2 separate regions of the Homo sapiens genome follow, and region 1 is linked to region 2. The links come from fine-mapping of genetic effects on gene expression. A gene starts in region 2. The other region holds a variant in brackets. All regions are shown on one strand. Distances are between the middles of the regions.

Evidence for each region. PIP is the estimated chance that this variant, and not a neighbour inherited with it, causes the effect.
Region 1: its variant is fine-mapped to the expression of CLIP2 in monocytes (Fairfax 2014, PIP 0.95).

Annotation. Positions count from the first base shown.
Region 1 is chr7:74,401,488-74,413,146 of GRCh38, reverse strand. It overlaps CLIP2 (CAP-Gly domain containing linker protein 2), which reads right to left. Exons shown (of 17, transcript NM_003388.5): 16 at 11,580-11,642; 17 at 7,212-9,310. The coding sequence ends at 9,299. Among named protein-coding and RNA genes, the nearest start is that of GTF2IRD1, 47 kb to the left of the region's middle. RefSeq lists enhancers at 6,754-7,616, 7,617-8,481. The variant G/C (reference allele first, on the strand shown) is at 7,453.
Region 2 is chr7:74,283,530-74,295,497 of GRCh38, reverse strand. It overlaps CLIP2 (CAP-Gly domain containing linker protein 2), which reads right to left and starts at 6,091. Exons shown (of 17, transcript NM_003388.5): 1 at 5,764-6,091. It overlaps LOC107986742 (a long non-coding RNA gene), which reads left to right and starts at 6,191. Exons shown (of 2, transcript XR_001745024.2): 1 at 6,191-6,436. RefSeq lists silencers at 625-919, 5,613-5,682, 5,703-6,172 and enhancers at 4,449-5,092, 5,093-5,737, 10,475-10,714.

The DNA.
Region 1 (11,659 bases), 120 kb before region 2:
TAATGCTTACAATTTTCAAATGTCTGAGATGTCATGTCTTCTAGATTTTCCTGGAAGAATATTTTCTTTTTCAAAAAAAGGTCTTGTTCTGTCACCAAGGCTGGAGTGCAGTGACACGATCATAACTCACTGCAGCCTCCAATTCCTGGGCTCAAGTGATCCTCCTGCCTCAGCCTCGCTAGTAGCAGGGACTACAAGTGCACACCACCATCCCCAGCTAATTGTTTTATTTTTTTGTAGAGATGGGGTCTCACCATGTTGCACAGGCTGGTCTCAAACTCCTGGACTCAAGTGATCCTCCCACCTTGTCCTCTCAAAGCACTGAGATTACAGGCATGAGTCACTGCACCCACCCCTGGGAGAATATTTCCTAAGAGTGTGCTCTATCTGGGTATTTTTCACTGTGGAACCTCAAGCAGGGTCTGGGGTCTGGGCTGTCTTGTAATTTTCTTTTTCTTTCTTTCTTTTTTTTTTTTTTTGGAGACACAGTCTCACCCGGTCACCCAGGCTGGAGTGCAGTGGCGAGAACTCAGCTCATTGAAACCTCACCTCCCGAGTTCAAGTAATTCTTTTGCCTCAGCCTCCAGAGCTCCAGAGTAGCTGGGACTACAGATGTGCACCATCACCCCCAGATAATTTTTGTATTTTTAGTAGAGACAGGGTTTCGCCATATTGGCCAGGCTGGTCTCGAACTCCTGACCTCAAGTGATCCACCTGCCTTGGCCTCCCAAAGTGCTGGGTTTACAGGCATGAGCCTCCCCGCCCGGATAGTCTTGTCATTTTCTTCAGCCTCAGATGTCAGAATCTTAGTGGAGGCGAGGGATAATAGCAGATAAGAGCACTCTCCAACCTTCACTCATCCCTTTACTAACGCCTTACAGCACAGTGGAACTGCTGGTGAGAAAACAGGAACAGATTGGAGCCCCAATCCAGGCTGATCTTGCTGAACCACAGACCCAGCCAGCTGTTGCTGGCCCCCTAGATCCACATTCAATCCCCTACTGTTTTTTTTTAAAAACAGTTTCACTTTTTTTTTTTTTTTTTTTTTTGTATTTGAGACAGAGTCTCACTCTGTCACCCAGGCTGAAGTGCAGTGGCACAACCTTGGCTCAATGCAACCTCCGCCCCCCCCCGGGTTCAAGCGATTCTCGTGCCTCAGCCTCCTGAGTAGGTGGGATTACAGGTACCCGCCACCATGCCCAGCTAATTTTTTTTTTTTTTTTGTATTTTTAGTAGAGACGGGGTTTTGCCATGTTGGCCAGGGTGGTATTGAACTCCTGGCCTCAAGTGATCCACCTGCCTCAGCCTCCCAAAATGCTGCGATTACAGGCGTGAGCTGCTCCCAGCCCCCGTACAACTTTTAAATCAAGTGACATCAAACAGATTCATTCACCCTCTGCCCACACCCTGCAGTCTAGTGCAGTTGCTCAAACAGTTCTTGGTAGGTTTTTCCTACTTTATTCTGTTAACATGATAAATTGCACTGATTGAGTTTTTTCCCTGAAATTATTTGAACCATTAAAAATATTCATTTATTACTGTTCCAAATTGTATTCCTAATACACTTTGGTGTTATTGTTATTTTTATTTATTATTATTATTATTATTATTATTATTTTGAGATGAAGTCTCGCTCTTGTCCCCCAGGCTGGAGTGCAATGGCACGATCTCAGCTCACTGCAACCTCCGCCTCCCAGGTTCAAGCAATTCTCCTGCCTCAGCCTCCCAAGTAGCTGGGATTACAGGTGCCTGTCACCACGCCCAGCTAATTTTTGTATTTTTAGTAGAGATGGGGTTTCACCATGTTGGCCAGGCTGGTCTCAAACTCCTGATCTCAGGTGATCTGCCCGCCTTGGCCTCCCAAAGTGCTGGGATTACAGGTGTGAGCCACCATGCCCGGCCTTTGATGTTATTATTAACAAATAATAATTTTTCATACTGGTATACATGTGAAACCATGGCAACTATCATAATGTAATTTTTTTTTTTTGAGACAGGGTCTCACTCTGTTGCCCAGGCCGGAGTGCAGTGATGAAATCATGGCTCACTGCAGCCTTTAACTCCTGGGCTCAAGCTATCCTCTCATTTTGGCCTCCCAAAGTGCTGGGATTACAGATGTGTGCCACCATACCCGGCTAGATTTTCCTTTCCTCCTTCCATCCCTCTCTCCCTCCCTCTCTCCTTCCTTTCCTCCCTCCCTCATTTTCCTTTTCTCTCTCTTTCTCTCCTTCTCTCCTTCTCTCCTTCTCTCTTTCTTTCTTTTAGACAAGGTCTCACTCTGTTGCCCAGGCTGGAGTGCAGTGGTATGATCACAGCTCACTGCAGCCTCAATCTCCCACACTCAGGTGATCCTCCCATCTCAGCCTCCAAGGTAGCTGGGCATACACCACAGGCATGCACCACCACACCTGGCTCATTGTTTCCCCCCATGGAGTCTTGCTCTGTCACCCAGGCTTGAGTGCAGTGGTGTGATCTCAGCTCACTGCAACCTCTGCCTCCTGGGTTCAAGTGACTGTCGTGCCTCAGCCTCCCAAGTAGCTGGGATTACAGGCACCCGCCTCCATGCCCTGCTAATTTTTAAAAATATTTTTATAGAGAGACAAGATTTCACCATGTTGCCCAGGCTGGTCTCAAACCCCTAAGCTCAAGTGATCTGCCTGCCTCGCCCTCCCAAAGTGCTGGGATTATAGGCTTGAGCCATGGCGACTGATCCGGCTAATTTTTAATATTTTGTAGAGATGAGGTCTCACTGTGTTGCCCAGACTGATCATGAACTGCTGGGTTCAAGCAATCCTCCCCCACCTCAGCATCCCAAAGTGCTGTCATTACAGGCATGAGCCACCATGTCCAGCCTTTTCTTCTTTTTTTAAGTTTCCTTGTTAGTAGACAAGGATAGCTTTCTTTTTCTTTTTCTTTTTTTTGAGACAGTCTCATTCTGTCACCAGGCTGGAGTGCAGTGGTGCGATCTTGGCTCACTGCAACCTCGGCCTCCCGGGTTTGAGCCATTCTCCTGCCTCAGCCTCCCTAGTAGCTGGGACTACAGGCGCCTGCCACCACGCCCAGCTAATTTTTGTACTTTTAGTAGAGACGGGGTTTCACTGTGTTGGCCAGGATAGTCTCGATCTCTTGACCTTGTGATCCGCCCGCCTCGGCCTCCCAAAGTGCTGGGATTACAGGCAGGAGCCACAGCGCCCAGCTTCTTTTTCAGAAAGTATCTTAGTGAGGTGAAGGGCACATAACGTTAATTTAATCACTGCATAGAGGCCCTAGTACATTTACAATGTCATACAGCTACCACCTCTACCATTTCCTTCCTTTTTGTTGTTTTTTACTGTTTCTTGGTCAGGTGAATTCCAAAACATTTCCATCACGCAGTTCCTCACCATTTTTTCCTTAGCCCTTGGCCTCTGGCAATCGGCAATCTGCCTGTTCTCCATGGATTCGTCTTTGTGGATATTTCACGTAAGTGCAATCATATAGTACGTGACTGTGTCTCCCTGTTTTCACTTAACAGGATGCTTTGGAGGTATATCCATGTTGTAGCAAATATCAGTGTTTCATTCTTTTTTTTTTGGTGGGGGGGCAGACAGAATCTTGCTCTGTCGCCAGGCTGGAGTACAGTGGTGCAATCTCGGCTCACTGCAACTTCTGCCTCCTAGGTTCAAGTGATTCCACTGCCTCAGCCTCCCAAGTAGCTGGGACTACAGGCGTGCGCCACCACGCGTGGCTAATTTTTTGTATTTTAGTAAAGATGAGTTTTCACCATGTTGGCCAGGATGGTCTCGATCTTATGACCTTGTGATCTGCCTGTCTTGGCCTCCCAAAGTGCTGGTGGCTTGAGCCACTGCGCCCGGCCCATTCTATTTTTTTTTTTTTTTTTGAGACGGAGTCTCGCTCTGTTGCCCAGGCTGGAGTGCAGTGGCGTGATCTTGGCTCCCTGTCACCTCTGCCTCCCGGGTTCAAGCCATTCTCCTGCCTCAGCTCCCTGAACAGCTGGGATTACAGACCCACACCACCAACCCAGCTAATTGTTTTGTACTTTTAGTAGAGATGGGGTTTCACCATGTTGGCCAGGCTGGTCTCGAACTCCTGACCTCAAGTGATTTGCCTGCCTCAGCCTCCCAAAGTGCTGGGATTACAGGTGTGAACCACCACGCCTGGCCGTTTCATTCCTTTTTATGGCCAAATAATGTTCCATTATATGGATAGACCACATGTGGTTTATCCATTTGTCTGTTGATTGGACCTTTATTTCCACTTTTTGGCTATTACAAATAATGCTGCTATGAACATGTGTGTACACAATTTTCTGTGGAAATGCTTTAATTTATCTTGAGTATATAGTTAGGAGTAAAACTTCTGGGTCATATGGTAATTCTGTGTTTAACATTTTGGGGCTGGGCATGGTGACTCATGCCTGTAATCCCAGCCCTTTGGGAAGGGTGAGGCGGGAGGATTGCTTGAGCCCAGGAATTTACAACCAGCCTGAGCAACAAACATAGTGAGACCCCTGTCTCTAAAAAAAAAAAAAAAAAAAAAAAAAAAAGTAAACAAACATACTTTGAGGAACTGGTGCAGTGGCTCACGCCTGTAATCCCAGCACTTTGGGAGGCCAAGGTGGGTGGATCACTTGAGGTCAGGAGTTCAAGACCAGCCTGGCCAACAGGGCGAAACCCTGTCTCTACTAAAAATACAAAAATTAACTGGGTGTGGTGGCACACACATGTAATCCCAACTACTTGGGAGGCTGAGACAGGAGAATCACTTGAACCTGGGAGGCAGAGGTTGCGGTGAGCCAAGATCGTGCCACTGGACTCCAGCCTGGGCGACAGAGTGAGACTCCGTCTTAAAAAACAAAACAAAACAAAACATATTTTGAAGAACTGCCGAACTTTTCTGAAGCAGCTGCCCCATTTTACATTCCCACCAGCAATATATGAGAGTTTAAATTTCTCTACATCCTTGTCAACACTTGCTACTATCTTTTAAAAAGTTTTAGGCATCCTAGTGGGTATGAAGTGGTATCTCTTTGTGGTTGTGATTTGCATTTCCCTAATGACTCATGTTGTTGAGCATCTTTTCATGTGTTATTGATCATTTGTACATCTTCTTTGGAGCAAGATGTATTCAGATCCTTTACCCATTTTGATTTTTTTATTTTTAGAGTTGGAGTCTCACTCTGTGGTCCAGGCTGGAGTGCAGTGGTGTGATCATGGCTCACTGCAGCCTCAAACTCCTGGGCTCAAGCGATCCTCCTGCCTCAGCTTCCCAAGTAATTGGAACTACAGGTGCATACCACCAAACCCAGGTAATTGTTTATTTATTTTTATTTTTTATATATTTTTTGAGATGTAGTCTTGCTCCGTTGCCTAGGCTGGAATGCAGTGGCGCGATCCTGGCTCACTGCAACCTCAGTCTCCCAGGTTCAAGCGATTCTCCTGCTTCAGTCTCCCAAGTAGCTGGGATTACAGGCGCACGCTACCACGCCTGGCTAATTTTTGTATTTTTAGTAGAGACAGGGGTTTCACCATGTGGACCAGGCTGGTCTCAAAGTCCTGACCTCAGGTGATCTACCAGCCTCGGCCTTCCAAAGTGCTGGGATTACAGGCATGAGCTACCATGCCCGGCTTTTTTTTTTTTTTTTTAAAGAGACAACGTTCTTGGTATGCTACCTAGGCTGGTCTTGAACTCCTGGGCTCAAGTGATCCTCCCGCCTCGGCCTCCCAAAGTGCTGGGATTATAAGCATGAGCCACCTGGCCCAATGTTCGTTTTCTAGTTTGGGTCATTGTACTGCAGTTATGTGCGATGTTAATGTCAGGGGGAGCTGGGAAAGAATGTATGGGAATGCCACTATTTTTTGCAATTATTCTGTAAGTCTAAAATGATCTCAAAATCAAAGAGTTAAAAAAGAGTTGGGCAGGCGCAATGGCTCATGCCTGTAATCCTAACACTTTGGGAGGCTGAGGTGAGAGGGTTGTTGGAGCCCAGGAGTTGGAGGCTGCAGTGAGCTATGATGGAGACTTTGCCTTCCAGCCTTGGTGACAGAGCAAGGCCCTATGTCTAAAAAAAAACAAAAACAAAACAACAACAACAAAAATGGCAGGTGCAGTGGCTCATGCCTATAACATCAGCACTTTGGGAGGCCGAGGCGGGCGTATCACTTGAGGTCCAGAGTTTGAGACCAGCCTGGCCAACATAGTGAAACCCGGTCTCTACTAAAGATACAAAAATTAGCTGGGTGTGGTGGCATGTGCCTGTAGTCCCAGCTACTCAGGAGGCTGAGGCACAAGAACTTGGGAGGTGGAAGTTGAATTGAGCTGAGAACGCGCCACTGCACTCCAGCCTGGGCAACAGAGTGAAACCCTTGTCTCTACAAAATAATAATAATAATAATAATAATTTTAAAGAACACATTTTGAGGAACTGATGTGGTGGCTGACTCCTGTAATCCCAGCACTTTGGGAGGCCGAGGTAGGCAGATCATTTGAGGTCAGTAGTTCAACACCAGCCTGGCCAACATGGTGAAACCCCATCTCTACTAAAAATACAAAAATTAGCCAGGTGTGGTGGCACGCACCTGTAGTCCCAGCTACTTGGGAGGCTGAGGCACGAGAATTGATTGAACCTGAAAGGCGGAGGTTGAAGTGAGCAGAGATCGTGACACTGCACTCCAGCCTGGGTGACAGAGTGAAACTCCATCTTGGGGAGAAAAAAAAAATTCTCATTCTCTCTTCCAGGGGGGCAACCTCCACTTGAAAGCCTATTTGACCACAAAGTTTGCAACACGTCGTGCTGTTGATCTGATCTCCGGAAAGCCTGCTGCGGGAACCGGAATTTGCCCACTGAAGCTGGAAACCGCCTCGGACTCATCACACGTGTGTGAGCGGATCCGTTACCGTTTCCATTGACTTTTTTTGCAGGTCTACTTATCCCTCCAGCAGGTTCAAATGTGAACCCAGGACCAGCCCTCTCTGGCAGCCTTTCTGGGTCTGTCCTCTGCCTGTCCTTGCTAAGGTGCCTCTCCTGGGACAAGGACAGCCCCAGATGTCTTCAGCTCCAGCCCCTCTGAGGCCGTGCCTACCTGGGAAGGAATGAGCTGGCAGAGGGCAGGATCGGGGGCCATCTCCTGGCACCAGGGTGCCCAAGAATTGGGAGAGATCGAGAAGCCCGGGGTCCCCACGGAGAGGAGGAGACAAGCCAACTGCCGGGGTCCTGGACCTGTCACAAGCTTTATTGTCCCGAGCACAGACTCGCCACACTTCAACAATTCCACTGTGGGGAGGGGAGGGGTGAATGAAGGACCTGGGGAGGGGACATGGCTGAGCCACACCCGGGCGGCCACACGGGGCGGGCTGAGAGGCCCACGGAGGCAGAAGCTCCCAAGGAAACCGCTTCTTGGACACCCGTCACCAGGAGCCCACCTCCGGGGGCTCAGCTCCTCCCGGCACCCT[G/C]CTAGATGGACCTCTGGCTGTTAGTAGACTAATCGGTGCCCCTACCGATGGGGCAGAGCTGCCTGATTTTGCTAGAAAGAGCTGTATTTGACCCTGGGTTAGGCCACTAAAGCATCGCTTCTAGACGGCTGTTAATAGAACTGCATGCGAGAGCTACCGAAAGCCAACAGGGACTGGGAGGGGGGCCGGGGGGACTGACTGTGACTCCCCGATGGGCTGCATTTGGGCAGGAACGTGAGCGCCACCTACCTGTACCAGGTGGCACTCATGAGGGCGATCTGGGCCGTTCCTATGAATTGCACACGTGTCCTGTGCGTTACGGGAAAGCCGGGATGGGGCATCGGGCTTCTCCCTCTGGTCCACTGATGGGGGAGGCCTCACAGGAAAACACTCCCTGAGCTGCCGGAGGGTGGGGCAGGGACCCCTGTGCTGATGCCGGGGTGCAAAGCTGTAAGCAACCTGTTGGTCCCCCAGCGGCGAGGTGGAGGCTGCAGGGCCAAGGCTGGCTTTTTCCACCACGCACAGGCCTGGGATAACTTAGCAGGCTTGAGGGGAAGATGGCAGGGCGAGGGGTTGGGGGAGCGCAGTTAGATTTCTCTTACCCCCAGCCCCCGTTAGGAGATGGGGCTGGAGACGCTCTGTGCAGGTGCCTGGCAAGACCAGGAAGGGATGCTCCATGTGGCAAACACACCCCTGAATGCCTGGCTGCGTGTACTTGGGTGTGTATACGCACCTCTAGGCTGTAGGAACGTTTGCAGTATCTGTAGGCACGGTCCTGCCAGGCCTGGGTCTCAGTCCCAGAAACCAAGTATGTGTCTCTGTGTGGCCTGAGCGTGGTTCACAGCAAACGCCGCCACCCACACGGTCATGCGTGCACACGTGGTCCCTCTGTGTGTGTGTGAACGTGGTGTGTACATAAGGACCCACTTAGCTGCATCTCCAGGTGGATGCAGATATTTTGGAACATCTGGTCAACCCCAGGGGAAACCGTATTACTGACCTTTGTCAAACCTGCCTAGAGCCTCCACTCTGAGCTGCCTCTGCCCTGGGCTCCGAGCCAGGGTTTGCCCAAGGTCACGGTGGGAGGTGAGGAGAGGGGTTTCCAAACCTTCATAATACTGTGTCTTTGGCCTTGGTGACATCTTCGGCCAGCAGCTTAGAGGTGTGTGTGTGTTGGTGTTGGTGGGCAGCGGGAGAAGGATCCCGTTCCCCTGCCCTCCGCCCCCGCCAACACCTTGAACCTGGGGGCCTCGCTGGGCAGGCAGGCTGGCTGAGGGGAGCTTGTACTACTGTTTGAAGAAGGTTCAGAAGGTGGGGACAAGAAGCCCTGGCGACTGCCTTGGCCTGGAAGTGGCTTCGGAAAAGGGGCCCCCACTTGGCTCTTAAAGACTGGATGCTCCCCCTTGGTGTCTGCATGGATAAACTTACCCCCTCCCCAGCCCCCGCCGGCCCCTCTGGGGAGACCCGAGGGAGAATGGGCGGAAAAAGAGGACAGGGCCGCTAAGATGGTCCTCAGGGCAGCTCCTTCTGGACAGAGGGGCCTGGCCGGATCCCCTCTGCCTCCACTGACAAACTCCAGAAGCTGCCGGGTGTCCAGGCTGAAGGTCCCCGGGTCAGGCCGGGGCTGTACCGTTCACACTCTCTGTAGAAGGCTGGGCTTGAGGAAGCGTCCTGGTCTGGCGAGGGATCGGGGTGGGGGATTGTCCGCGGCGGTGAGTACGTTATTGTTACAAACACTGTTTTGTCTCCAAAGTGACAGTCCCGGCTCCTGCCTGGAGGAGGTACTGCCGGGCAGCCGCGTGGGGCTCTGGTGTGGACTGGGCTGCTCCACAGTATCCCCTCAGGATCAGTGCTTGTCCTAGAGAGAGTAAAGGGCATCATCAGCAAGGGTCTCAGAGAGCCTGGAGGGCCAGGCGGCCAGAGGGGAGTCAGGGAGGAAAGGAGTTGGGGCCGGGTGGGGGAGGAGCATAGAGCGAACTGCATGTGCCAAGGCCCTGAGGCAGGAAGTGTCTCCCTGCTGTGTGTTTGTGGCTGTGTGAGACAGCAGGTGGGGTGGGAGGTGCTGATGGGAAGCGGAGCCGAGGGGAAGAAGCAGGTTTTTTGTTTGTTTGTGTGTTTGTTTGTTTTAAGACGGAGTCTTGCTCTGTCGCCAGGCTGGAGTGCAGTGGTCTGATCTCAGCTCACTGCAACCTTCGACTCCCTGGTTCAAGCGATTCTCCTGCTTCAGCCTCCTGAGTAGCTGGGATAACAGGCATGCGCCACCATGCCCAGCTAATTTTTGTATTTTTAGTAGAGATGGGGTTTCACCATGTTGACCAGGATGGTCTTGATCTCCTGACCTCATGATCCACCCACCTCGGCCTCCCAAAGTTCTGGGATTACAGGCATGAGCCACTGCGCCCAGCCAGAAGCAGGTTTTACAAAGAGCCCTCAGTGCCTGTACGGGGCTGGATCTCTCTCTCTTTTTTTTTTTTTTTTTTGAGACAGTCTCACTGTTGCTCAGGCTAGAGTGCAGTGGCACGATCTTGGCTCACTGCAACCTCTGCCTCCCGGGTTCAAGCGATTCTCCTGCCTCAGCCTCCCGAGTAGCTGGGACTACAGGCATGTGCCACCACACCCAGATGATTTTTTTTTTTTTGTATTTTTAGTAGAGATGGGGTTTCGCTATGTTGGCCAGGCTGGTCTCAAACTCCTGACCTCAAGTGATCCACCTGCCTTGGCCTCCTAAAGTGCTGGGATTATAGGTGTGAGCCACTGCACCTGGACAGTTTTCACATCTGTGAACTGGGATGACCCCATGTGTCTCGCAGGGTGGCCAGGAGAACAAGGCCAGGAGGACAAAATCACACTAACTCCTCTGAGGCTGGCTCTGCCCACATAACCCTGCCTGTGTCTGGAGCTTGGCAGATTCTGTGGCTGTGCTGCTCCTGTTTCTAGCGAGCATCTGTGCTCCAGGGATTCTGCAGTCAGAACTAGGTTCTCTCTCTTTCTGTGTTCTTCTTAGAGACAGGGTCTCACTTTATCACCAAGGCTGGAGTGCAGTGGCGCAATCCTAGCTCACTGCAGCCTCAAACTCCTGGGCTTGAGTGATCCTCTTGCCTTAGCCTCCTGAGTAGCTGAGGCTACAGGCATGCGCCACCACACCTAGCTAATTTTTAAAATTTTTATTACTATTTTTTGAGACAGTTTTGTGCTTGTTGCCCAGGCTGGAGTGCAATGGTGCGATCTCGGCTCACTGCAACCTCCACCTGCCAGGTTCAAGCGATTCTCCTGCCTCAGCTTCCCGTGTAGCTGGGATTACAGGTGTGCGCCACCCTACCCAGCTAATTTTGTATTTTTTTTTTTTTTTGGTTTTTTTTTTTTTTGAGATGGAGTCTCGCTCTGTCGCCCAGGCTGGAGTCCAGTGGCGCGATCTCGGCTCATTGCAAGCTCCGCCTTCCGGGTTCATGCCATTATCCTGCCTCAGCCTCCAGAGTAGCTGGAACTACAGGTGCCCGCCACCACGCCCAGCTAATTTTTTTTTGTATTTTTAGTAGAGATGGGGTTTCACCGTGGTAGCCAGGATGGTCTTGATCTCCTGACCTTGTGATCCGCCCGCCAGATGGAGTTTCACCATATTGGCCAGGCTGGTCTCAAATTCCTGACCTCAAGTGACCCACCGGCCTCGGCCTCCCAAAGTGTTGGGATTACAGACATGAGCCACTGTGCCCAGCCTTTTTAAAATTTTTTTTTTTTAATAGAGAGAGGGTCTCGCTATATTGTCCACCCTACCCGGCTAATTTTGTATTTTCAGTAGAGACGGAGTTTTACCATATTGGCCAGGCTGGTCTCAAACTCCTGGGCTCAAATGATCCTCCTGCCTTGGCCTCCCAAAGTGCTGGGGTTACAGGCGTGGGCCACTGCGCCCAACCTATAACTTTTTTAAGAAGGGAAGAAAACACAAATCAAAAAGAGCAGGGTGAATCTGGAATCAAGTTTGCCTGCAACAGCACCCTCCCTGAGGGACCCTACTGTAAAGCTTCTTGCAGAATGCATCTTTGTGTGTATTCTTAGTGACGTTTCAAGGATTTTCTCCAGAGAGGTCTGCCTGCACGGGAGGGACCTGGGAGGCCCGAGGCGCCCCTCACCTCTTGTTTCTGAGCTTTGTCCTGCTGGTGGATGCCGTTTGCAGAACCGGAATTGCCGATGGTCTGGAAGAGTTAGGGGA
Region 2 (11,968 bases):
AGTAGAAAGGTACGAGGTGGCAAAAAACCCAGACATCCAACGTTACTTCTCCCCGCCGCCAGTATAACTCCCCCAACTTCACACTCAATGTGGGAGAATGGTGAGTTTTTCACTGAGCCCCTAGACAGACACTCTACTCCCTGCTGCCCCAGCTTCTCAACTTTTCTCCCTTTGCCCCCATCATGAATGCCCTCCTTAACTGCCTCAAGCCCACCTATGCTTCAAAACTCAGCCCCAGCTGGGTGCAGTGGCTCACACCTATAATCCTAGCACTTTGGGAGGCCAAGGTGGGAGGATCGCTTGATCTCAGGGGTTTGAGACCACCCTGGGCAACACGGTGAAACCCTGTCTACAAAAAAATATAAAAATTAGCTGGGCATGGTGACATGCACTTGTAATCACAGCTAATAGAGGCTAACTAAGGTGGGATGATGGCTTGAGCCTGGGAGGTCAAAGCTGCAGTGAGCCGAGATCACGCCACTGCACTCCAGCCTGGGTGACAGAGCCAGGCCCTGTCTCAAAACAAAACAAAACAAAACCTAGCCCCAGTTCTATTCCTCCAGGAAGCCCTTCAGACTACCCCACCCACCACACCAGAGCCCAGCCTCCCTGCATAACCTTCAGATCAATATGCAGCCGTTGCCCAGCCAACAGCTCCACTAGGCATCAAAGTGTCTGGCCTTGAAATGTTTCTGGAAAGGGCTGATATTGTTTACATTGTCAGGAAGCAGGGCGGATGTCTTCCCAATTTAGTAAAAGCTTGTGGAAGCTCAATGCTGCACATTGTGAGGTGGGCAGGGGCTGGAGCACCCCCAAAAGGAGCTAGGGCAGCATCAGCCAGGTTTAGCTACAGGCAAGGGCAGACCAGCTTGAGACCTCAGGGTGACGGGGGTGACGCTGAAAAACCAGGCGCTCCTCCTGGTGAGCCGGAAATTCCGCCCTCTCATCCCAAGGGACCAAAAAGGCAAAGGAGGGAAATGAATCGGGAGCGGGTGTCGCTCAGGGCTCAGGCTAGAGTGGAAGGTATGATCCCAGCCATGGAGCAAGAAACGCTCCATCAAGACAGAAGCCGTTAAGTAGAGAAGGTCCTAAATTCAGGCCTCGTTAATAAAAACCATCTGGCCTGTTCTGCCTTCTATTCAGAAGGGAAACGTTTCATTAACATTTTGAAGCATTTCCTCTGCAAACATGAGTTTTGTATTACTGGTTCTGTTGTGACGGCCCTAGCCTTGCAGCCCAGTGAGAAGAGCCAGGATAGGAGGCTCTGGCTGGGCGCAGTGGCTCACGCCTGTAATACTAGGTCTTGAACTCCTTATCTTTTGGGAGGCCAAGGCGGGCAGATCACTTGAGGTCAGGAGTTCGAAACCAGCCTGGCCAACATGGTGAAACCCCATCTCTACTAAAACTACAAAAATTAGCCAGGCGTGGTGGCGCGTGCCTGTAATCCCAGCTACTCAGGAGGCTGAGGCAGGAGAATCACTTGAACCCGGGAGGCAGAGGTTGTGGTGAGCTGAGATCATGCCACTGCACTCCAGCCTGGGCAACAAGAGCGAAACTCCATCTCAAAAAAAAAAACAAAAAAAAAGCCCGAGTCCCACGCTGCCGGTTGGACCCAAATCTCCAGGTCCTGAAAGGAGAGAGCCTCCTCCTGTCCCGGGGCAGGGCTGGGGGAAGCCAGTGGCAGGCAGCCCTGGCCATCCCACCTGTCCTCTCCTCCCCACACTGGCCTGATCAGTGCACTCTGGTTTCTTTCAACAAATCATGCTGCAAGTCCCACATCCTGTGGCACAATGGCTAATTGACCACGGGTCTGCCTCCCCCATCAGCTCATGAACTCCCTGAATGCCCAGATTTGCTGGTCCTCACCTAACACACAACCTTCATCATCAATGCAGCCAACCAATTATCCCAACTGTGCCAGCCCCAGAGACCACGTGACCTGCCCCCCCACTAGCCGAGCAGAGGCGGGTGGGCTTCCTCATCCAGGCTGGACCAATCAGTGTCTCTCTGCACCCCAAGATGAAGGAGACCCCCACTGGGAGGTCCCGTGGACTCAGGCTACAGCCCCATTCAACACAGCCACACTCACAACCCAAGGAGACGGAGCCTGTAGGGGAAAGGAGAAGGAGACGGGACAGATGCGCTGAGAGAGGCCGAAAAAATGAAACCGCAGTCCACAGAGAGGAAAGCCAGAGGAGGAGCTGCCTGCCAGCTTCCGGGGTCCCGGGGGGCCAGGTCGCCTCCAATTGTTTGCTGCACAAGTTCTCTGTTCTCCACTCTTAAGTCCCTTTTCACTTAACCTAATTGAAGCAGGTTCCTGTTCCTTGCAACAAAATAATCCCAAAGGTATGGGATCGGAGGGCACCCCCACACCACCCTCAAAGCCAGCCCTGCTCCTCAAACCATGCCCACTCCTCACAGTTTATTAAAGGGGCCACGTCAGCCTTAGGTGAGGCAAGCCTGGGTGTGCCCAGCCTGGGAGCATGGGGAGAGCTGCAGTGGAAAGATACAGCCAACTGGGGGCGGACCCTAAAAGCTAGATAGCGTGTTTGGACTTTGCACCTGAGCAAAAGGGATAGGTGTCTGAGAAGGCAGAATCATAATTGTTCAGGGACATGAACCCGAAGAGGGTGGGTAGAATGGTGTGGCCGAAGGAAGCATGCCTCCCAGGCATACAGTAGGTGCTTAGCAAATCCATCAAGGGCAGACACAGCCACCTCTTTGTGCCAGGATATTCTTATCTGTAAAATGTAGGCAACCTTATTAAAATATCCACAAATGAAGGAATGAATTTAAAGAGCTCAGAACCAGGCCAGGCGTGGTGGCTCACGCCTGTAATCCCAGCAATTTGGGAGGTCAAGGTGGGCGGATCACTTGAGGTCAGGAGTTTGAGACCAGCTTGATCAACATGGTGAAACCCTGCCTCTACTAAAACTACAAAAAATTAGCCAGTCTTGGTGGCATGGGCCTGTAGTCCCAGCTATTCGAGAAGCTGAGGCAGGAGAATCACTTGAATCTGGGAGGTGGAGGTTGCAGTGAGCCGAGGTGGCACCACTGCACTCCAGCCTGGGCGACAGAGCAAGATGCTGTCTCAAAAAAGCTCAGAACAATTCTCCACAAAGTAAGCACTTAATATATACTTTTTTTTTCAACCTGCACAAAAGCTGAAGTTCTCACAAGAACCAATGAGCAGGGAATCTGAGGGTCACAAATGCAGCTTCCCTCCCCTGTGTATGGAAGTGGAGGTAGAGCAGGTGGTGTCAAGAGGGCAGAACTGGCTGGGTGCAGTGGCTCACGCCTGTAATACCAGCACTTTGGGAGCCTGAGGCAGGTGGATCACCTGAGGTCAGGAGTTCAAAACCAGCCTGGCCAACATGGTGAAACCCCGTCTCTACTAAAAATACTAAAATTAGCCGGACATGGTGGCACATGCCTGTAATCCCAACTACTTGGGAGGCTGAGGCAGAATTGCTTGAACCCAGGAGGCAGAGGTTACAGTGAGCCAAGATCGCGCCATTGCACTCAAGTCTGGGCAACAAGAGTGAAACTCCATTTCAAAAAAAAAAAAAAAAAAGAGGGCAGGATCAACTGTCAGGGTGGCAGGGCCAGGAGGGGAGGCCAAGAGGGAACTGGGGGACCACACGTGGGCAGGCCTGCCAGGTGGGGAGCAGGGACAACTGGGGCTGTGGGGAGATGGCCTTTCTATCACCAAGGGAGGCAGGACCAGGGAGGAGGCTGCAGTGAGGCAGAGAACAGCAGGTGCCGGGTCAGGGCTAACCAGCAAGGGTGCTGAAGAAGGACAAACAGCCTGGAAGGGGCACGAGCCTCCTCTCCCTGAAACGTGTGTGAGTGGGGCCAGGAAGCCACTCTGTACGGCAGCAACAACACTTATAGGACATCTACTCTGTCACAGGGCACACAGTTCTCCTAACAACCCTAAAAGCCAGATACCATAAGGATCCCAATTTTACAGATGAGGATGTCGAGGCAGAGAGAGATGCAATGTGCAAGGTCACATAGCTAGGGAGTGGCAGAGCTGGGATTTGAACCCGGGCTGTTAAGCTCCAGCATCTGAACTCTTCACCGCCAAGGTAGACAGCAGATGCCGGAAAGCGATTACTGCTCCTTGGAGTAAATTCCCCCTGCTGGGACTTTGGGCTCTGAGTGCAGAATTCCAGGCACCACCTTCCCAGCCTGCACGGTGCTGAGGGCTGGAGTTTGCAGGTGCACACAGGTGTGTGTGGAGGAGGCTCCTCCCAGGCGCCTCCACCTGCCTCTTCTGCCTTTGGAGCCCCTCTCCATCTCCACCGCCTCCACCTGTCCTGAAGCCAGAATCCCATCATTCCCCCGCAAGGCACTGCAGACAAGAATGCATCCTGTGCTCAACGCAGGTCTAAGTTCCTTAAATCCTAAGCTGTTTCTCTAACCCAATAGCCTCCTTTTCTGACTCCAAGCCCTTATTCACGCTATTTCTCCTGCACGAAACCCCCTTCAGGCAACCTGGCAGCAAACTTCTGCAAGATGCTCTATGAAGCTTCCTGGTCTGCCCCATCCTCCAGGGGACCCCCTCTATGCCCCCAGCTTCCCCACTAATGCACTCATCAACCCCCGGGGCTGCACTTTTTGGGGACACCGAGGCTGCTGTCCTGTGGACCAGCCAGCCCCTAGAAGTGCCAGGCCAGGTAACAGCAGCTGAATGAAGGGCTTATTGTTTACATTTACAACCGAAAGGGAAGAGGCTTCTGAAGCACACACGTGGTGCTCCCCGCACCCTCCTCCTCCTCTGCCCACAGCCCTAGGCCACCCCACCCACCTCCCTCAGGCATCGCGCAAGAGTGACGGCAGACCCCCTCATCCCAGACCCCCACTTCTCACCCAGAAGTGAGAGGAGGGGTCTCAGACGTTGGGGGACACACTGCTGGGTGGGTGATTTCCCCCCAAGGTGCTCCCTCTGCCCGTCCTTCCCAGGGTGGGGCTGGGGCCTGCGTGGCAGTGCCCAGTGGGCACCCGCTCGGCCCAAGCTCTGCCTGAAAGGTCCAAACGGGCGGGCCCTGAAGGTTCAGCCAAGCATCCTCCGCGGCCGCCGCCCCTCCCCGGGAGGAGGGCAGAAAATCTGCTGCCTCACCAGCCACCAGCGCCAGCTTGGGGGGACACCCCCTGAGAGAAGCCGCCCGCCTCAATCTCCTCCTACCCCACCTCAGCCAAGCACTTCAACCAAGTTTTGCAAAGGCCATCGGCCAGGCGACCCCAGAGGGTGTAGCAGGGAGGAGAGGGGGGCAGTCCCTGTTCTCCCAGACCCCAGGTTTGGAGATGGGGGCTGCATGGCCGCGCCCACCAGGCTGTGCTCCCCAGGCTCTGTGAGCCCAGAGAGCCCTGCGGCGCGTCCAGCCGTCTTGCTCTGCCCTTGGAAGGGGGTACGGGCGACCCTCCAACAGAAGGGCCAAACCCCCGTCCGAGGGTAGGGACCCCGATGAGGCTGGTGATGCCTTCAACAGGGGGACCCGCAGCCCGGGAATAGCCCCCAACCCTGGCACCCCAAGCAGTGCCCCCTCCTCTCCTACAAGCAACGGGGAAGTTGGGGCACACCCCAGCCAGCTCCCGCCCACGCCCACCGGCCGGCCTCGAACCCTCCCGCCCCCGCCCACGCCCCGACAATGCCTCCGGGCCCGCAGCCCCGCTTTCGGCCAGGCCGCCGCCCCCCGCATCTCTCCGTCCTTTGTTGCCCGCGCGACCCCCTCCCTCGGCCCCTCCAGCAGCCCCTACCTTCGTCCTTCCAGCATCAGGCTAAGCGGCGGGAGGCCCGGAGAGCCCCGGCCTCCTCCTCTCGGGCCCGGGCGCGCTGGGGGGCGAGGATGCTGCGGCCCCTCCCTGCGCGGCGCTGCCCACCGGCTGCACCCCCTCCTGGCGCCGGGGATCCCCGCGATAGGTGCTCAGGGCCCGGGCCTCGCGCCACGTCTCTGGGAAGGCGGGAGGCGCGCACCGAGGCCGCCCAGCAGCCGCCTGCGCGCCCCGCGGCCGAGCCGAGCTGAGCGCCCGCGGAGCCAGCGGAGCCAGCGGAGCCAGCGGCCCGGCTCCGGGAGGGAACAAAAGGGGCCGGCGCAGGGGCGGGCGCGGGAGGGCGGGGCCTGGGGCGGGCGGGAGGGGGGGGCGGGTCAGGCGCGCGTGGGCGGCCTCGCGGTTTTCAGGCCTCAGTGCCTCGCGGAAAGCAGGCGGGCGGGCGGAAAACGCGGAGCAACCTCTTCCCCCTCTCCCCGCTCCATCTCCTTCCCTTCCCAGGCCGCAGCTGTCCTTTGTGGGGCGTCCAGGGTTCGCCCACATCCACCTCCGCGCTGGGCACCTGGTGGTGCTTACATCGCGTTTGGTGAAACGCATCCTCCAGCCATGCTATGCTTGCAAAGATGTCTCTGGTCATTGGGAAGGACGGCAGCTTGGGAAGGTGAGATGCTGTTGGCGCTGGACAGAAAGGATGAGGAGGGGGACAGTGCAGCTGGGGCGAAAACTTCAGGTCTGTGTTGGGGCCAGCGTGGGTGGGGAACTGTGGCACAGGGTCTCATGGTTATCAAGGATCTCATAGCCTGGGCAGTGTCTCACGCCTGTAATCCCAGCACTTCAGGAAGCCAAGGCGTGCAGATCGCCTGAGGCCAAGAGTCCGAGAACAACCTGGGCAACGTAACCTTCGTCTCTACAAAAAATACAAAAATTAGCTGGGCGCGCGCCTGCGGTCCCAGCTACTGGGGAGGCTGGGGTGGGAGGATCGCTGGAGCCCAGGAGGTCGAGGCTGCAGTGAGTCATGATCAAGCCACGGCCCTTCAGCCTGGGTGACAGAGCGAGACTCCGTCCCAAAAGAAAAAAAAAAAAGGATCTCATGGTGATCAGCTTCCAAGATACAAATGAACCCTCCCCAGGACAGGATGCATGTACTGCTATTTCAGAGGAGTTGAGGCAGCTGCCAGGTCCCCTCCTGCGTGGAGAGGCAGATGCCAAGTGACAGCTCAGGAACTAAACAGTGACCAAGCCCCAGCCCCTGTCCATGCCCAGGCTGCGGTTGGCTTCTGTGGCTTGGTTTCCCTCTGTCCCCCCTTGATAAGCTCGCCTGGATGCCTTTGACCTAGCTGGCCGTTCTACCAGTCCTGCCCTGCCCCCTTTCTCTGTTTGACAAATCATATTCCCCCTTCAAAGCACAGCTTAAATGTCCCTGCTTTTCCCTTGAGTGCAGGAATGTGGGTGTTGGGGGAGGTTGTGGTCTGTATGGTGAGACCACTGTTCTGCGGGAGAGAAGTGCCACATACGATCTTGTTCCTATCCCCTAAGGGACCCAGTGCAATGCTTGGCAGAGGGTAGACATCCAGTAATATTTGTTGAATGAATGAATGAACTTACTAAGTTAACATTACCACCCCTCAACTGTCTTGGTATCCATAATCTTTGAGAAGTGAGTGAACCTTTTTTTAGAGAAGGGGTCTCACTCTGTCACCCAGGCTGGAGTGCAGTGGTGTGATTACAGCTCACTGCAGCCTCAAACTCCCAGGCTCAAATGATCCTCCTGCCTCAGCCTCCAGAGTAGCTGGGACTACGGGCATGCACCATGCCCGGCTAATTTTTTGTGTTTTTTATAGAGATGGGGTCTCATTATGTTGGGGTCCAGGCTGGTCTTAAACTCTTGGCTTCAGATGATCTTCCCACCTCAGCCTCCCAAAGTGCTGGGATTACAGCTGTGAGCCACCGTGCCTGGCCTAAACATTTTGACCTCAGTTTCCCCATCTGTAAATTGGGGAGAGTGTTTCAATTCAGTTCAGCGAACATGCAATGCTGTAATGATGGAGGCTGGGCATGGGGTCAGCCCTGAGGGGGTGCCCAGTTGGTGTGGAGAGCCAGACTTGGAGACTAATAAGGGAGGAGGTTCAGAGTGAACTCCAGAAAGACTGGGCTTCTGTAGGAGGTGTGAACCCATAGGGAGGGAGGGGACTCAGGGTGGAGAGGGCAGTGTTCAGGAAACAGGGAGCTAATTGTTCCTTGTGGCTGGGATGCATAACCTGTATATCAACAGTTATAAACCAGCCAGGCACAGTGGCTCACACCTGTAATCCCAGCACTTTAGGAGGTGGTGGCGGGCAGATAACCTGAGGTCAGGAGTGCGAGACCAGCCTGGCCAACGTGATGAAACCCCATCTCTACAGAAGATGCAAAAAATAGCTGGGTGTGGTGGTACATGCCTGTAATCCCAGCTACTCGGGAGGGTGAAGCTTGAGAATGGCTTGAACCCAGAAGGCGAAGGTTGCAGTGAGTGGAGATCATACCACTACACTCCAGCCTGGGCAACAGAAGGGATGGGATGGGATGGGACGGGACGGGACGGGATGGGGCAGGGATTTGCCAAGGTGACATGGGTCTTGCTGGGATGTACCTGAGCTCACCAGCCCCTGCCCAGCAGATCTAGCCTCCCACATGTGCCTCAGGAGGTAGGCAGGGGCCCCCAACCTTCACAGGTACTGCCTCCCTCACTGATGGCCCCCAGTATTATTCAGAGCAACAGCCTGCGGTCAACAGACCTTACCTGGCCGCTGGTGAGTGGAGCTTCAAAGAGCAAGTCACCTGAGAGGGACACCTTTTGTTCTTGCTCCAGATGAGAGAAGACAGGCTTCTGTCTTGTTACAGTTTGCATTTGGGGGGCCGGGCACAGTGGCTCACACCTGTAATCCCAGCACTTTGGGAGGCCAAGGCGGGCGGATCACAAGGTCAGGAGTTCGAGACCAGCCTGGCCAACATGGTGAAACTCCGTCTCTACTTAAAATACAAAAAATTAGCCGGGCATGGTGGCACACACCTGTAATCCCAACTACTTGGGAGGCTGAGGCAGGAGAATCACTTGAACCCGGGAGGCGGAGGTTGCAGTGAGCTGAGATCGCACCATTGCACTCCAGCCTGGGCAACAAGAGCAAGACTTTGTCTCAAAAAAAAAAAAAAAAAAAAGTTTGCGTTCGAGTTTTTCTGCTTCTTTCAGTAGATGAACCTGATGCTGTCTGATGTGAGGGTTGGGGTCCTGGCCTTGGCCCCTGCCCTGGCATCAGGCCTCCGTGATGGGTGGGGAGGCAGGCGGGGGGATCTGGAGGGGGTGTTCTCCCAGCCGACCTCTCACCCAGGCCTTTTGTCTCCACTGAAACTGCTGATTTGGTCATTTTCTTGCTGACGCCGGCTGTGACCAGCAGCCTCACGGGAGGATTTTTCATGGGAAGAGAGAGTTGGGAATAATTTTCGAGCCAGAGCTGAATTCTCTGAGGCCTGCAATGGGCCAGCCACGGGAGAGGCCTGGGCTGCTTTGCAGGTGGCGATCTCTCTGGTATACTATTTATTTATTTATTTATTTGTTTATTTATTATTTTACTTTTTCAGGGGTAGAGACAGAGGCTTTCTATGTTGCCCAGGCTGGTCTCGAAATCCTGGCCTCAAGTGATCCTCCCACCTCGGCCTCCCAAAGCGCTGGGATTACAGGCTCTGGGCACCACGCCTGGCCTATTTTTATTTTTTTATTTTTCATTTTAGAATCCATAGGACAGCTACAGGATGGGATATGTTTGCAGTGTCTGAACTGCTGTTTACAAGGCATTTGTTATAATGTGGGGAAACAGTTACGTATTTACACCCACCAGGAAAATACACTTCATGAAACTGCGGATATGGAGCCAAGCTTAGTGCCTCATGCCTGTCATCCCAGCGAGTGGGGAGACTGAGGTGGGAGGATCACTTGAGCCCACGAGTTGGAGGCTATAGTGAGTTATGATCATACCATTGCACTCCAGCCTGGGCAACAGAGCAAGATCCCATTTTATTTTATTTTATTTTTAAAATTGTGGGCCAGTTGTGGTGGCTCATGCCTGTAATCCCAGCACTTTGGGAGGCCAAGGCAGGAGGATTGCCTGAGCCCCAGAGTTGGAGACCAGCCTGGGCAACATGATGAAACCCTGTCTCTACTAAAAACACAAAAAGCTAGCCAGGCATGGTGGCACATGCCCGTAATCCCAGCTACTCAGGAGGCTGATGCAGGAGAATCGCTTGAACCCGGGAGGCGGAGGTTGTAGTGAGCCAAGATCGTACCACTACAGTCCAGCCTCGGTGAAAAAGTGAGACCTTGTCTCAAAAAAACTGGTAACTGTGGTGGGCTTTGGGTGGGGGGAATCCGTGGGACTTTTTTCTTCCCTTTTCTGAATTTTTCTGCAACAGGCATGTGCTGCTTTGGGGACTAATAAAAGAAACTTAAACCCAAACCGCTTCTGCTGAAATGATTGGATGTTGCTGTGACCTTTCTGCCTAGCAGAGCAGAGGCTGCACAGGGTGGCAGGTGGCACAGGCTGGGAATTGCATCACCACGGAGATACCAGCTAAGGCTATCACGCCGGTGGCCACACCCTTACTTTCAACTGCATGGACTTTGCCTTTATCCAGTTCTCCCCACCTTGGGGTATATCGGTCTTGGAGGAAGCTCCGGTACTTCCCTCTGGCTTGGTACAGTGCTAGTGGAAACAGCCCAGTGGTAAAGGAAGGCCATAGTAGCTCTCTGCTGCCAGGTGATAGGGGGACTTCCCCTCGTTGGGGGTTTCCAAGATGCATGGGGGCTTTTTCTATGCAGCCTCCCCGGATTTCCCAAGGGAAGATAACAAGGCCTCCCCTGCTGTGTGAAGGAAAGCTGACATGGCTGAGGATTGTTACGAGAGAAGCTTAAGCTTAAAACTGCATGAGGCCGGGTGTTGTGGCTCACGCCTGTAATCACAGCACTTTGGGAGGTGGAGGCTGGCAGATCACCTGAGGTTGGGAGTTCGAGACCAGACTGACCAACATGGAGAAACCCCTTCTCTACTAAAAATACAAACTTAGCCGGGTGTGGTGGCTCATGCCTGTAATCCCAGGTAATTGGGAGGCTGAGGCAGGAGAACCGCTTGAACCCAGGAGGCGGAGGTTGCAGTGAGCCGAGATCACACCATTGCACTCCAGCCTGGGCAACAAGAGAGAAACTCTGTCTCAAAACAAAAACAAAAACAAAAAAACTTCGCATGGATTGTGTTGATAAATGAAGACCACCCCAAAGAGAACAAGCAAAGCCTGCTTATTCAGACCTTGTTATTGCAAGAGAAGTGGGCCAGCAAAGGCCAGCAAAAATTTTAAAAAGCTTTATTTATGTTTTGATATAGGGTCTTGCTATGTTGCCCAGGCTGGTCTTGAACTCCTGGGCTAAAGCAATCCTCCATGCCTCAGCCTCCCAAGTAGCTGGGATTACAGGCACGCACCACCGCTCCTCACTTAGGGAAAACACTCCCAACTTCCTCCTGCTGGGGGAAGTCTCTAAAGGTGCTGGCTAAGGGCCCCTCTGCAGTCTGTCAGTTTCCAGCCTCAAGACCGTCCTCCACAGCTGCTATTACTCACTTAGCCCCGCAGTCCCTGAGTCCTATGGTTGCACATCTGTGCGTTATGTCACCCGGCCCAAGGCAGTGACACGCACTGAAGCTTGTTTATTCCGAGTTTCCAGGAGCCATCTGCCCGGGGACACTGCCCTGGACCAGGCTGGGCTCTTTCTCCCCTGATTCCTGCAGGGCTGCTCCCAGGACTCCTCTGCAAAACCACACTTTCTCTCTCAGGCCAGGTCTAAGGGGGCATCTCTTCTGGGTTCTTTTGCATCCTTCTGATACTTTTTTTTTTTTTTTTTTGAGATGGAGTCTCGCTGTCACCCAGGCTGGAGTGCAGTGGCACAATCTTGGCTTGCTGCAACTTTCGCCTCCTGGGTTCAAGCAATTCTCCTGCCTCAGCCTCCTGAGTAGCTGGGATTACAGGCACCTGCCACCACGCCTGGCTAATTTTTGTGTTTTTGGTAGAGACGAGATTTCGCCATGTTGGCCAAGCTGATCTTGAACTCCCTACCTCAGGTGATCCACCCGCCTTGACCTCCCAAAGTGCTGGGATTACGGGTGTGAGCCATTAC